2 separate regions of the Homo sapiens genome follow, and region 1 is linked to region 2. The links come from fine-mapping of genetic effects on gene expression. Tissue or cell type: monocytes after LPS. Region 2 holds a variant in brackets; the other region holds the start of a gene. All regions are shown on one strand. Distances are between the middles of the regions.

What was found. PIP is the estimated chance that this variant, and not a neighbour inherited with it, causes the effect.
Region 1: RAP1GDS1 starts here. The variant in region 2 is fine-mapped to the expression of RAP1GDS1 in monocytes after LPS (Fairfax 2014, PIP 0.95). The same link has a PIP of 0.9 or more in B cells, CD8 T cells, NK cells, monocytes, monocytes after interferon gamma and transverse colon.

What each region holds. Positions count from the first base shown.
Region 1 is chr4:98,258,640-98,265,219 of GRCh38, reverse strand. It overlaps RAP1GDS1 (Rap1 GTPase-GDP dissociation stimulator 1), which reads right to left and starts at 3,836. Exons shown (of 15, transcript NM_001100427.2): 1 at 3,651-3,836. The coding sequence starts at 3,654. RefSeq lists silencers at 3,546-3,615, 3,716-4,015 and enhancers at 3,982-4,544, 4,296-4,595.
Region 2 is chr4:98,437,805-98,446,091 of GRCh38, reverse strand. It overlaps RAP1GDS1 (Rap1 GTPase-GDP dissociation stimulator 1), which reads right to left. Exons shown (of 15, transcript NM_001100427.2): 15 at 2,234-4,102. The coding sequence ends at 3,975. Among named protein-coding and RNA genes, the nearest start is that of RAP1GDS1, 180 kb to the right of the region's middle. The variant C/T (reference allele first, on the strand shown) is at 3,843.

The DNA of each region.
Region 1 (6,580 bases), 180 kb after region 2:
CTTTATTTGCAATATTCTATTCCCGTTGCCATAACCTGGTTCAAGCCATTAAACATTTTCGTCCAAACTCCAACAACAATCTTCTGAAGTGTTCTGTAGTTTCTCATCTAATCGATCCTGCACTCAACTGACAAATTTTCCTATACCACAGATGTGATCCATCACTTAACTACATAAAAATGTTTAGTGGTCTCTCAATAGGTAAGTCAGATTAAAATTCTTCAGCTTGGCATTTTAGATCCTACATTATCTGGTCATTAGCTATTACTGTACTACTTTTTCATGTCTGTTACCCACTATTTCCTTACCTTTTGCTCTAGCCAAACAATGCTGTTTAATCATATCCTGGAAATTCATAAAATGTTTCCTATCTATCTTCATTTATGTCATTTCTCTTCCAACCCCAGACCAACTCCATTCTGATTAACAGTCTCATTTCTACCTTTAAGAAGTTTAACCCACCTTTGGTTCAAATAACACCATTTCTCTAAAACGTTCTCTCCATTCTCTGAATCTATAATATATGTAAAGGTCTTTTATATAACTTATACTTTTACTTCTATTATAATTTGTGTATGTGTCATATTGTTCCTGCTAAGATTATAAATGTGAAACATGAATATCTTTTTATCTTTGTCCTCCCAGTACACTGTAGTACAGTACACTGCACAGTTGATATCCAACAAACACTAAATGTATGTTGAATCTGAAATATGACATATACATAAAATAGTAGCTATGGCCATAAAGTTATATAGGACTTTTCTTTCACTCTCTTGTGTAGGAAATTATTGCCATGAGAATATATATATATATTTTTTTTGAGACAGAGTTTCCCTCTTGTTGCCCAGGCTGGAGTGCAATGGCATGATCTCGGCTCACTGCAAACTCCGCCTCCCGGGTTCAAGTGATTCTCCTGCCTCAGCCTCCCAAACAGCTGGGATTACAGGCGCCCGCCACCACACCCGGCTAATTGTTTTTTTGTATTTTTAGTAGAGACAGGGTTTTACCATGTTAGTCAGGCTGGTCTCCAACTCCTGACCTCAGGTGATCCGCCCGCCTCGGCCTCCCAAAGTGCGCGCCCGGCTGAGACTATCTTTAAAAATCAACCTTATTTATTTCTTGAGACAAATTAAAAAGCACTTCTCCCTCCCCTCATCATTAACCAGTATACCTTCTACCTTCTTATGTGTACATGAATTGTTATACTAACTTCCTTGGCCCAGATATAAAACTGTTCCCCAAGGTTTCAATTTTAAATTATCATATGTACCTACTGATCATACATGAAACTGCCTTACCATTGAAGAGAGTTTAGAAGGAAACAGATTGCCTGAGGTTGACTCAAAACCAACCTACAGTGTACTGGGAGGCATGGTACAATTATACCTTTCTGTTTCTGCTTATCCCCCAACTAGATAATATGTACCAACCCAAATGTTTGTTCAGATGAAGACTATATCTTCAGGTTCAAAAGTTGAAAATAATAGGTGGCTTTAAGTTCAACAATTTGCCAAAGATTTACTGAATTTCTATTTGAAAAGCACTGTGGGGAACACAAAAAATAATAAGACACTTTTCATCTTCTGGGACTCATGATTAAATGCACAGCACACACATAAACAACTTTATTATATGGTAGATTACGTAAGTGCTAAAAAGCTTCTAACAAGGTACAAACAGTGCTTATGAAGAGACAGATTAACCAAAGAGTATCAGAGATGGCTTCAAAATGAGAGATAGGTTTCTATTTGGCCCTTTTTAAAAATCAAGCAATAGCACTCAAGATTTTGAAGATTATTTTTAAGTAGATAATTTCTTTTAGGTATTTTTATTCACCAGTGTTGTAACGGAATTGGATTTTTTCCACTGAAAAAGTACGGATTTAACATGTAAGCTAAAATGTTAAATGGATTGTTTAAGGCTCACCTGGAAACATGGGAAAATATATTTTGCAAGCCAAACTTGAACTTACAGTCCAATATCAGATAGGGTTATTGGACATACTGTATATTTCCTTTGAACATACACACACTTATCTGTGTATGTATGTTCAAAGGAATTTTATTTCAAAGTGTATTTTATCTGTGTATGTTCAAAGGGAACACACATAAACGTGTGTATGTTCGACGGAAATATACAGCTTGTCCAATAATCTGATATAATACCTATTTAAAAATCTACTTTAAGAGAAAGGCAGACACGCATAAATGGGCCACCCAATTTTTACAGAAATTTGTTCAGCATATCGAGTACTCACGTTAAAAAGAAAAAACAACTGAAAATAAAATTCAGAGCCCTAGACCTTTTTTGATTCATACCACCTCCTCCGTCAACCCTGGCCTCTTCCAGATATATGGCCAAAGGTCGGGATCAAAGCCTGAAGCATTTGCTGTTCCAGAAAACTCTATGGACACCATTCCCAGGTTTAGATACTTCTTGAAGATTCTGAGTTGCACCACCTAACTCTGAACGTGTTGAGCACTGTATTAACAGATGAAAGGACCACATTCATCTCAAGCTTTAAATAACTCGCACAGAAGGGGTGGGAAAAGTCCCAGCTGACAGATGCCAAGGGAGCAAATTTTAAAAAGAGGAAATTATGACAGACAGGAGTGGAAGCAAACTGGGGAACTTAGTACAAGTCGCTACTATTAAAAGAAACTTTGAGCTCTTAATTACATGACAGCATTCATCAGACGTTTCTGTGATTACTGAATGTAACAGTTAAGCAATAGATGATGTAAAAAAATTAGGTCAAATGTATATATCGTTTTATAAAACATATTTGCTCTTAAATCTCTCATCCAAACCAATCTCTTCAGATTAACTATAAATACAAAGGAACTAAAATCAGATTATGCAGATTAGACAGGAGGAAGCTGGGAAAGAATAACTACCATGTAAGTTCGGTAACAACGTTACAGGGCGCAGTTTCCTGCTACAGAAGACGGACGAAGGAATCCAGAAAATAGGCTGGGCACGGGAATATTGCACACTGTAGTCACCCAGCACTAATTCAACAGCTAGCGGCTCTATCCTGCCTCACGTTCCTCGTGGCCTCTGACAAGTCATCCTTTCAACCTATGAGGCTGTCCGCTCTCCCCCTTGGAAAATAATTTCCGTGCAGGTTGTAAGATCTCCCTCACAAACTACTTGCTTCCACTTCCCCGCCCGGGATGAGGAGTCTCCACGACGGGGAAAGGTCGCACTGACAGAGAAGGAAGTTACACGAAGTGGTAGTGGTCGGACCCGAGCCTCGAGCTCAGTACACGCGGGGGAAAAGGAAGCGGGCGGCCTCTGGAGAAACGGGGATGGAGCTGCAGATGCGAGCCCGCGAGGCAGGCTCCGTGGTGCCCGGGCACCGGCAGGAAGAATGGAGGAGGGGAGGCGAGGCTGCGAGGTGCCGGGGAGCCGGGCGGCGGTCCGGCCCGCGGCCGACCCCACCCCAGCCCGCGCTCGGGACCCTCCCAGCCCCGGCACCCGGCGTGCGTTCCGCGTGCGCCGACTCTCCCCGGAGGAACAGCCACCGTCTCACACCCGGGGACTGGAGAAATCCGGCAACTTTGCGCGAGAAATGCTTCCCACCCTGCAGCACGCCGAGAAAGAAAAAAATGTCAGGCGATGACGGCGGAGGAAGGATGACTTACCCATGTTGCTCCCCGAGGGTGAGGAACCGGCGGGGCGAGGCGAAGGTCTGTGGTGCGGGCGGCGCGGCTCTGTGTCCTCCCTCTACCTCCGTCTCTCCCGCAGCCAGGGAGGGACCCGCGGGGGGCGGCCGCCGGGGAGGAGCAGCTGGTGCTGCTGCAGGCGGCGCGGCCGCGGCGGGGACGAGCGGCGGGGGGCGGGGCGGGGCGGGGCGGGGCGGGACTGGCGGGCGCAGCCTGCGGCGGGCGCGGCTCCGAGCGGGCGGGCGGCGGAGGCGCGGGAGCCGGCCTGAAGAGCTCCGGCCCCGACTCGCAGCCCACGAGCGCCCCGCCCTCCCCACCGAGCATGCTCAGTGCCTTTTCCACCCCTCCCTCTGTGGCGAGCGAGGCTAAGCGTGCGGGTGGGCGTGTGTTTGCAGACCGGCTGCAGCCGCGGCAGAGGATCTTCATGGCGGCCGCCTGAGAGGCGGAGGGCGGGCCCGGAGAAAACAGGGAATGGGGATATTGAGCCCGATCTGCTAGCAGAGGACTCACCGCTGCCTTGCTTTCCCACCCTGACCCACCAACCCCTCACCCGGAACCCGGGCTTGCCTTCTTTACGGGACGACCGGGCCGCACAGGCCGGAATTAACCGGAGAAGAGGCTGGGCCGCCGCAGAGCCGGGAGGGGTGGTGGGAAGCCAGAGCTGACGAAGTTGGAAAGGACGTGTAGGCGACTAGGCCTGCGCCTCTTGGGGACACCTGAGGACGCCCGCTGGGCAGCTGGCTGAGGAGGGGCCGCCGGGAGGGCGCTCGATAGCAGGCGTGTCATTGGGACACTTAAGGCTGCTCTAGCTGTGGCCAGCTTAGAAACAAAGGTCCCGGCAGCGAGGAGAGCGCCCGCCCCAGGATTTCCTCGAAGAGTGTGTCGTTCTCCCTCCCGGAGGAGCGCGGCCTTCCGTTCCCCGGAGGGCTCTGGAAAGGCCCTTTAACCGGGGTGCCGTCGGGCTCCATCCTGCTGTGAAAGCGGGAGGAACTACGTTCCCCAGGCTTGAAAATAAGCGTCCTGCTGGGTTGGCTGCGGCACTGCCAAAGCTAACCCGGCGGAGGTCCTTTGATCCCGGGGCCACCGCCCGCTCCCACCACCACCTCGGCCTCGGGGAGAACCTGAGCAGGGCTCTCCCACTGAGGGCGTCCTCCCGACTGGGCATGCACGTGAGGCCGGGGCTGGCTTCGGTCCTCTTCCCTGGGGTAGGAGGCTGGAGGAAACCGATTTCTCTGCACCCTAATCTTGCCCTGGCTCCTCCTGAGTGGGGTGAGGAATCTGGTCGCTCTCCAAGGCTACAGCGACCGGAGTCCTTCAGGGGACACTGTGCAGTCAGCAGTACAACCTGTTGGAGAAAGATGGCTGAATCGAGGTGTCTTTCCCCTGTCAACTTTCACTCGGTCAATCCAATGTTGAGAAAGGGCTTTTTTTGTTTGTTTGTTAATTAGTCGCCTATTCTCACAGTCATCAGTTTCTGCTTGGTGACTAGTATTTCGAGCACACAAATCAGAAGCGACCCTGTAATTTGTTAAGCAAAGAGCAGATTTTATGTGATTTTTCTACAGCAAGAAACGATAATTAAAAAGGTTTGGTAAAACAGGAAAATACAATTTAACTGCTGAAGTCAAATATATGGGACTTTTCTGATGCATGAGACTATCAGGCACCTCACTCTTAGGATGTTCTTCTTGTTTGCCTCTTAAAATAATCGCACTACATTAGTTCCCTAGGGCTGCCGTAACATACCACAAATTGGGTGACTTAAAACAACAAATTATTATCTCACAATTCTGGAGGCCAGAAGTTTGAAATCAAGGTGTAGGCAGGGCTGTACTCCCTCTGAGGGCACTGGGGAGGGATCTCGTCCATGCCTCTCCTAGCTTCTGGTAGTTTCTTGGCATATGGTAGCGTAACTCCAATCTGAACATGGCTGTTCTCCCAGTGTGCTTGTGTGTTCAAATTTCCCTTTTTAATAAGAACAGCAGTCATAACGGATTAGGGGCGAACCATCCTCCAGTATGACCTCATGGACGTTAATTATATCTGCAATGACCCTATTTCCAAATCAGGTCACATTCTAAGGGACTAAGGGTTAGGACTTCTACATATGAATAGGGCCAGCCTGGCCAACATGACGAAACCCCATCTCTAACTAAAAATACAAAAAATTAGCCAGGGCCAGGCACAGTGGCTCACGCCTGTAATCCTAACACTTTGGGAGGCTCAGGAGGGCAGATCACTTAAGTCAGGAGCTGGAGATCAGCCTGGCCAACATGGCAAAACCCTATTTCTACTAAAAAATAAATAAAATAAATAAATTAGCTGGGCATGGTGGCACGTGTCTGTAATCCCAGCTACTTGGGAGGCTGAGGCAGGAGAATCGCTTGAACCCGGGAGGCGGAGGTTGCAGTGAGCTGAGATTGCACCACTGCACTCCAGCCTGGGCCACAGAGCAAGACCCTGTCTCAAAAAAAATAAAAATAAAAAAAAAGAATCCGGGAGGGGTACACAATTCAACCCATAATACACCAATGCAGACCCCACCCTCAGGGCCCCTCACTGCCCCCACATCGGCCATGTTACACATTAATTTTATTACTCCTCCAGAAGACCAGCCTGGGCCTTTGCATTGCTGCTCATCATTTTTTGTTCATCTCTCCTTAACACTCATTAATCTCTTCCAGATTGTCAAGTTAACTTGCTTTATTTTTCCTACTTCCTTATCTAATTACATATTATAATAATTTCATGGAGTATCTTCTATCATTTATTTGGATGTAAGCGTTGAAATTAGCAAAAGCAGCTGAAGTGGCTTTCTCATTTCCCATCTGACACTAGTTAAAGTGCCTTTTTTGTTCTACTTCAATCTACAAGCCATCTCCTTAGCCTTCCTGCCAATTAAAACCAAA
Region 2 (8,287 bases):
GTCCATTTTCAAAGTGTTAGGGAGAATCTCTGTGGCTACAGCTAAAAAGCTCAATTTCATTAAAAATTTTATTTTTATTTTGGGACAGACTCTCACTCTGTCATCCAGGTTGGAGTGCAGTGGCACGATCTCGGCTCACTGCAACCTCTGCTTTCCAGGTTCAAGGGATTCTCCTGTCCCAGCCTCCTAAGTAGCTGGGATTACAGGTGTGCACCCTGATGCCTGGTTAATTTTTGTATTTTTAGTGGAGACAGGGTTTCACCATGTTGACCAGGCTGGTCTTGAACTCCTGACCTCAAGTGACCTACACGCCTCAGCCTCCCAAAGTGTTGGGATTACAGGTGTGAGCCATTTTGTTTCTACATTACAAACTATTAATAGGCATACTGTCTGCTGTTTGGGGGTTGTTTTTTGAATCCTTTTAGTTGGGAATCCTGCAGCAGTGAGAGAGGAGTATATAGGTTAGGCCCTAAGATATCACAATTCCATCTCACCTTGTCTTGAACGTCTAAAAGTTCAATTGTCATGAAAATCCTAAGGGAAGTAGGGATTATTAAACTTGTCATATTGAGAAATCAGGCCCAAAGAGTTTAAGTAACTTGGCTATGGTCACACAGCTAGTATGTAACAGACCCAGGATATGACTATAGATTAGACAGCATCCAAAGACCACACTCTTTGCACTGTATCACCCTTTTAAAGTACATAACTTGAGTCAGACACACCTATAAAACATACGCCTGTAATCCCAACACTTTGGGAGGCCGAGGCGGGTGGATCACTTGAGGTCAGGAGTTCAAGACCAGCCTGGTCAACATGGTAAAACCCTGTCTCCACTAAAAATACAAAAATTAACCAGGCGTCAGAGCACATGCCTGTAATCCCAGCTACTTGGGAGGCTGGGACAGGAGAATCACTTGAACCTGGAAAGCGGAGGTTGCAGTGAGCAAGATCGTGCCACTGCACTCCAGCCTGGACGACAGAGTGAAGTTACATGGCATATTATTTATATGTATATAGGCAAAGTTAGAGATCACACCTGTGAAAAAAGACCTCAGTTTTCCTGGCTACAGCTATAAAGATTCATCCCAAATATTATTACATGCTTTTTAATAGACACTTGTGTAATACAAATGTTATAGCGTCCTAATGTTAAGTGGCTTTTAAGCTTACTGATTCCAGTAACAGCTGGATACAAAGGGTAATGCTCACCTAAATGTCTTAATGTCTAGATATCCTCACCCAGTATGTTCAAGAGAATTAGATAATAAGCCTCCTAATTATAACAAAGAGCATTTCTTTTTGAATTCTTCACATGTAGCATTTTTCAGAACACTTCAGACTAATGCTTGCATATGAGAACTGCATTCTATTCAAGAAATCATTTTAGATGAAAAAGTTTTCTTCTATGTCTCCATTCTTATCAGACAGTATGCTCAAAACATGTTTTTATCATGGAAAACACTGGGTTATGGGCTAGTGTTTGCTTTGAGCACAATGAGGTTATGGTCTAGGTGGGTGGGCTGGCATGACTCCAAGTTGCTAATGGGGTTGGGGGGAAAGGGGTATATTCTAGTGCATTGCACTCAGGCATCTTCTTTGCTTGTATTCCTGCCCTTTTCATCTATGTTCTAGTACTGGCTCAAGATTGACAGTTAAAGCTTTGTTGTGCTGTTCTTCCCTCCTGTTGTCTCCCTTAGAATGTACTCTTAGTGGGTAGCAAACTAACTTAATAAATAGTGGCCTCTAGGACTAAGATTTAGTAGCAGGAGATAAGCGAGAGTACAGTCTGTAGACTCTCCCATCCACTGCAATGGCACATCAGTGTACCATCTAATTTGGTAGCCCCTGTGATAAGGGCACAGCCTTCTGGTCTTTCCGTACAATGATGAGTACTTTGAATTGCACTTTATTTTGCTGGAGATGGGAGTTCCTAGCATATTAGCAAATTGATGGCTGGCAGCTGGCCTAGATGGTAACTTCTCTCACATTTACGATTTTAGGATGCTTTTGTTAAAATTTTTTCCCTAAAGTCAGACAAACTATCAAATCTCAAACTTTCTATCAGTCAGTCAGTCTATCTTTCTGGAATTAGTTCAGGCAGTCTGGAAACTTCATGGATGCAGGATTCATTCATTCAGTCAACAAATATTTGTTGAACATCAATAGCAAGCCTTATTCTAGGAGCTGGAAATAGAGACAAAATATACAAACAAACCAAATGATGCCATTATAGCTTCATATACTATTTATTAAGTTATTAATATGAACAGATATGCAACATTACAGATGTCTTTCAAAGCCTGTAATAAAATATAGTCCACTATCCAGCCCAGGAGAAAGACAACAAACAGTATCATTCTTATAGTAAGTGTAGCATACGTACTCACAATAGTTCCCTTATTTGGACATCAAAGGGAACAATCAGTCAAGATTCTTTACCTCCATTAGAATTTAACTTTCTTGGATTATAGCTGTTTTAGAGTCAAAAGTCCAACTTAGATTATCCACAGAGATGTGTAGCATCACATGTTGGAGAGGAAGGAGCTACTGTCACCTCCGTGGCAGCCCTTTCTACTGTCTTGCAGTCCTTCTATATCGAAGCCCATCTTGCCTTTTAGGCCAGTAGTGGTCAAATTTGGGTATGGGGAGAAGGCAGGTGGGTCACAGGGAGGTTTTGATTAATTTACAAAGATTGTGTTTCAAAGCTCTAAAAACCCATTTGGTGGTGGCAGTGGCAGTGAAGAGTACACTATATTTCGCCAAGGGGGTCTTCTCATCTCTTGAGTCTTGGCTTTCTCATATCCTTTAAAATTGCTGCAGTTCTCAGTGGGAAAGTGGAGGTGGCAAACTCTAACAGCGATTGGTATGGGGCCATCTGCAGAATGAACTGGACTGGCTACTATGGCTTTTATAACCTGCTTTCCTTTCTTTAGTCTAGACAAGCTTATTTCTTCATCTTTCCACCTACGTCCTGCTAGTTCTAACATAAGATTTAAAAGGACTATGGAAGATAAAACTTCTCACTTTCTAGCTGAATGATGAAAAACAGCAAAAAAAAAAAAAAAAAAAAAAATTCCATTCTTCAATGAACTATACTCAATTTCCTCAGTTGAAAACAAACAAGCGCCAAATGAATTTTAAAGACAAGTGCTGGATAATGCTGATTAACTGGTAGAAGTAGTTCCTGAGTGAAACAGCGTATGTATCAGAATCTAAAATACAAGCAAAACCCGAAATGCTCTGTAATAGGGATTGTAATAGTGATTCTTCAACCCCTTAGTTTCACACTGAAAACTACAAATGTTTTTCAATATCAGGCTATTGATAATAGTCAATTAAATATGGAATCAGAAACCTCAGAAAGTCTTGCCAAGTTTGTGGCAGTTTCAATAGTCTAAAAAGGAAAAAGGAGAAACCAGAAGTTAAAGAGTAAGAGCATTGGAATTTTATTTAACTCTAGGTACCATGGATTTGACATCAGTAGGAAAGACTAATGAATAAGCAGCCATACAACTTTTTTGGTCACTGTGCTTCCCAAGCACCAAAAAATGGAGCTATTTTTCCAATTCAGTTTCATCTTTAATAAGCTAGACAGATCCTGCTGCATTCTTTGTTTCTAGTTTACCAGTACATCATTATGTAGTTTACTGCATGTGTGGAGCAAGTCATTATGTAGTACCAAGTTTACATCATCATAGGACTACAACATGCACATTCTACTTAATGTAGCTCAAGCAACAGGAATACAAGAGAACGGTTATGGGTGGAGACTTGCCTTTGACAAAGTCATGATCACACTAACTATAGGTTTAGAAATCTTATTAGGGAGGTACCTACAG[C/T]GGTTCTTCAATTGGTATTAGAACATCACATGCATGCACAAGTGGTATGGTAGAGAATGAAGCGGAAGAAGCCGCTGGATGGAGGACAGAGGGGAAATTAGAGATGGGATGATGCCGTGTATCGGGCAGTTCTCAGCTTTCCACAGTAAGTCTCTGCTCTGTGAGAGAGGCCTGCTGGGCAACACTTTTGTTCTCATGACTGCGAAGTTTGGATACGACATCTAGAAAAGCCAAATCCTGTACTTCCTTGTGTAGACATTCTGGAAGACAAAAAAATAACAGATATGATTCTGTTAGGTTGTTCTAAGTCTATCCAAAACATATACCAAAATGTTTATTTTGACAAGACTAAGCTTATAAAACTAGAAACAATTCTGGAAAAAGACATAGCAGTAGCCTAGCAATGTCTTTCTTAGAAATGTATTATAATTTAAAAAAATCATAAAAACTTTACTTTTTTTTAAATTAAAGGAAAAAATTTTAAAGATGGGGACTTGCTCTGCTGCCCAGGTTTGAGTACAGTGGCATGGTCACAGCTTACTGCAGCCTCAAACTCCTAGCCTCAAGGGATTCATCCTGCTCAGTCTCCCAAGTAGCTGGGATGACAGTCATGAGCCACTGCACAGCTACTTGCCCAATTTTTAAAAAGAAAAACGAGACGTCAAGTTCTACAATGTAAGATTAATTACAATAATGAGTTATAATTAAACACAGCTCACTGTATGATCTCAAGGTTTGGTTACATACAACCCTATCACCAGTTCAAATATGAAGTCCAATGACTTACCAAAAAGCTTAGGATATGTTTCAAATTAATTTTGTGGCAAAAGAAAAGTTTATACTTCATATCCTTCAACAAATTTCTGTGACACTGGACTCCCTTTTAGATTTTTTGTCCTCTTCTTTCTGACTTGCTTTCTCTATTTAACTTCAATTACAAGAAAATATAGGATTCCTGTTAGGACTCTGAGAACTGTTATATGGGATGAGTGAAGTCTAATAAGCTTAATGTAATCAGTACTACTGAAACTGATGTGTTTATTTTGATATGACTGACATAAACCAATGAACCAGTGTTTTTAGTAGTAATAGAAAAATCCATCCTAAAATTCATATGGAATCTCAAGGGACCCTAAATCTCCAAAACAATCTTGAAAATGAACAAAGCTGGAGTTCTCATACTAACTGATATCAAAACTTACTACAAAGCTACAATAATCAAGATAGTGGGGTACTGGTACAAAATCCTACAACTTGGGCCAGGCGTGGTGGCTCACGCCTGTTATCCCAGCACTTTGGGAGGCCAAGGTGGGTGGATCACCTGAGGTCGGGAGTTTGAGACCAGCCTGACCAACATGGAGAAACCCCATCTCTACAGGTGGTGCATGCCTATAATCCCAGCTACTCAGGAGGCTGAGGCAGGAGAATCGCTTGAACCTGGGAGGTGGAAGTTACGGTGAGCCGAGATTGCACCATTGCACTGCAGCCTGGGCAACAAGTGCGAAACTCCGTCTCAAAAAAAACAAAACTCTTACAATTCAACAACAACAACAACAACACCCTTCAATTCTAAAAATGGGCAAAGACTTGAATAGACATTTCTCCAAAGAAGATATACAAATGGCCCACAAACACATAAAAAGATTCCCATCAGTAATCATTAGGGAAACGCAAATAAAAACCACAGTAAGATGCCACCTCACACTCATTAGTTTGGCCATTACTAAAACACAGCAAATATTGGTGAGGATGTTGAGAAATGATAATCCATGTGTACTGCTGGAAGAAATGTACAATGGTCCAGCCACTGTGAAAAAGAGTATGACAGTATTTAATTAGTAAAAACAGTATTTAATAAAAAAATTAAACATTGAATGACCATATGATCTAGTAATTCCACTTCTGAGTATATATCAAAAATAATTAAAAGCAGAGGCTCAGAGATATTTGCATACCAATGTTCACAGCAGCATTATTCACAAAAGCCAAAAGGTGGAAATGGCCCAAATGTCCATGGATTGATGAATGGATAAACAAAATGTGATATATACATATGATGGAAAATTATTCAGCTTTAAAAGGAAATGAAATTCTGACACGCCTACAATGCAGATAAGCCTTAAAGACCTAAGTAAAATAAGCTAGACAAAAAAGGACAGGAGTTTCTTATTCCACATATATGTGGTGACTAGAGTTGTCAGATGATGGAGACACAAAATAAATGGTGATTGCCAGAGGCTGTGGGGAGGGGTAAATGGGGAGTTATTGGTTAATGAGTACAGAGTTTCAGTTTGGGAAAATGAAGGTGGTTCTGGAGATGGATGCTGGTGATGATTGCACAGCAATGTGAATGTCCTTAATGCCATTAAACTGTATACTTAAAAATGGTTAAAACAGTAAATTTTATGTTTTGTATGTTTTACCACAATTCTAAAAATGCTTAAACAAATGGAAGAGACTCAAAGTCTCTGCAAGGAAATAAAAGATATAAAGAAGAAGCAAATGGAAATTTTTAACTAAAATATATAACTGAAATAAAAACAGGTTCAACATCAGAATAGAGGGGACAAGGGAAATAATCAGAGAACTTCCAAGATAAAACAATAGAAATTACTCAGTCTGTACAACAGAAAGAAAATAATCTGTGGGTAAAAAAGAACAAAACCTCAGGGACCTACAAGACTATAATTAAAGATCTCACATTAGTGTCAACAAAGGTCTGGAAAGAGTGGATAGAATGGGGCTGAAAAGTACCTGAAGAAGTAACAGTCAAAACTTCTCAAATTTAGCAAAAGACATAAACCTATCAATTCAAGAAGCTGAGCAAACTCAAACAGGATAAACCCAAAGAAATCCATGCCAAGACACATCATAGTTAAACTTCTGAATACTAAACGCAAAGAAAGTCTTGAGAGACAAAAATGAAACCTTACCTACAGGGGAATAAAACACATAAGAACACAATGGATTTCTCATCAGAAACCAGGGAGGCTAGAAAAAAGTGGCACAATAGTTTTCAAGTAAAGAAAGAAAAGAACTGTGAACCCAGAATCCTATACCCATTTTCTGTCATTTGACAATGTCATTTCCCTTTCATTATGAATGAAAAAAATTTTTTTTGGCTAAAAATCTGTTGCTAGCAGTATGGCTAAAGGAAGTTCTCTAAACAGAAAGGGAATGATTATAACAAAAATAAGAAATCTAAAAATGTGCGTAAATACGATAGACTTCCCTTCTCTTTCAAAGAGTTTTCTGAAATATGTTTGGTGGTTGAAAGAAAAGTTGTAACACTGTCTAACGTGATTCTAAATATATGTAGAAGAAATATTTAAGAATGATATACGTGAGAGGCTGGGCGTGGTGGCTCACACCTGTAATCCCAGCACTTTGGGAGGCCAAGGCAGGTGGATCACCCTGACGGGTGGTCAGGAGTTCAGTATCAGCCTGGGCAACATAGTGAAACCCCGCCTGTACTAAAAATACAAAAATTAGCCAGGTGTGATGTGGCAGGCATCTGTAATCCCAGCTACTCGGGAGGCTGAGGCATGAGAATCACTTGAACCCTGGAGGAAGAAGTTGCAGTGTGCCAAAATCACGCCACTGCACTCCAGCCTGGGTGACAGAGTAAGACTCTGTCTCAAAAAAAAAAAAAAAAAAAAGATATATATATATATATATATATGGAAGAATAAATGTAAATGATTAAAAAATGTTTAACCCATAGGAAGTCAGAAATAAAGAAGAAATGTGACAAACAGAAAACAAAAATAAGATTGCACACTTAAGCCATATCAGTCATCCATTAAATGTAAATGGTCTAAATACACAAAAGGGACTGGTAGAGTAGATTAGAAAATGACAACTTTGTGCTGTATACAGGAAACTCACTTCAAATACAGCAGATTGAAACTAAAAGAGTGAGAAAAGATCATGTGAATGTTATTCAAAAGAAAGTAGGATGGCTTCTTGTAGTGGCACATGAAAGAAAATAAAATAGTAATAATAAAAAAACAAGCAGAAGTAGCTATGTTAAAGTCAGATAAAGTTGACGAGAGCAAAGAAAAATACCAGAGAGAGGTACACTATATAATGATAAAAGGGTCAATCCCTTAAGAAAGCACAGCAATCCTAAAGGTGTAGGTACCTAACAACAGAGCTGAAAATTATGTTAAGCAAAAATTGACAGAACTGAAAGGAGAAATAGGTAAATCTACAGTGGGAGACTTCAACACCCTTCCTCTCGACAATTGACAGAACAATTAACTGCAAAACCAGCAAGAATAAAGGAAACTTGACACTAGTACCAACAGAATCAAATTCACATTTATACAACAGTACCCAATAACTGCATAATACACACTCTTTTCAGGTGTCCATAGAACATATACCAAGATATGCCAATGTCCATAGAAGATATACCAATGATTTGTTGAAAAAAAAAATTT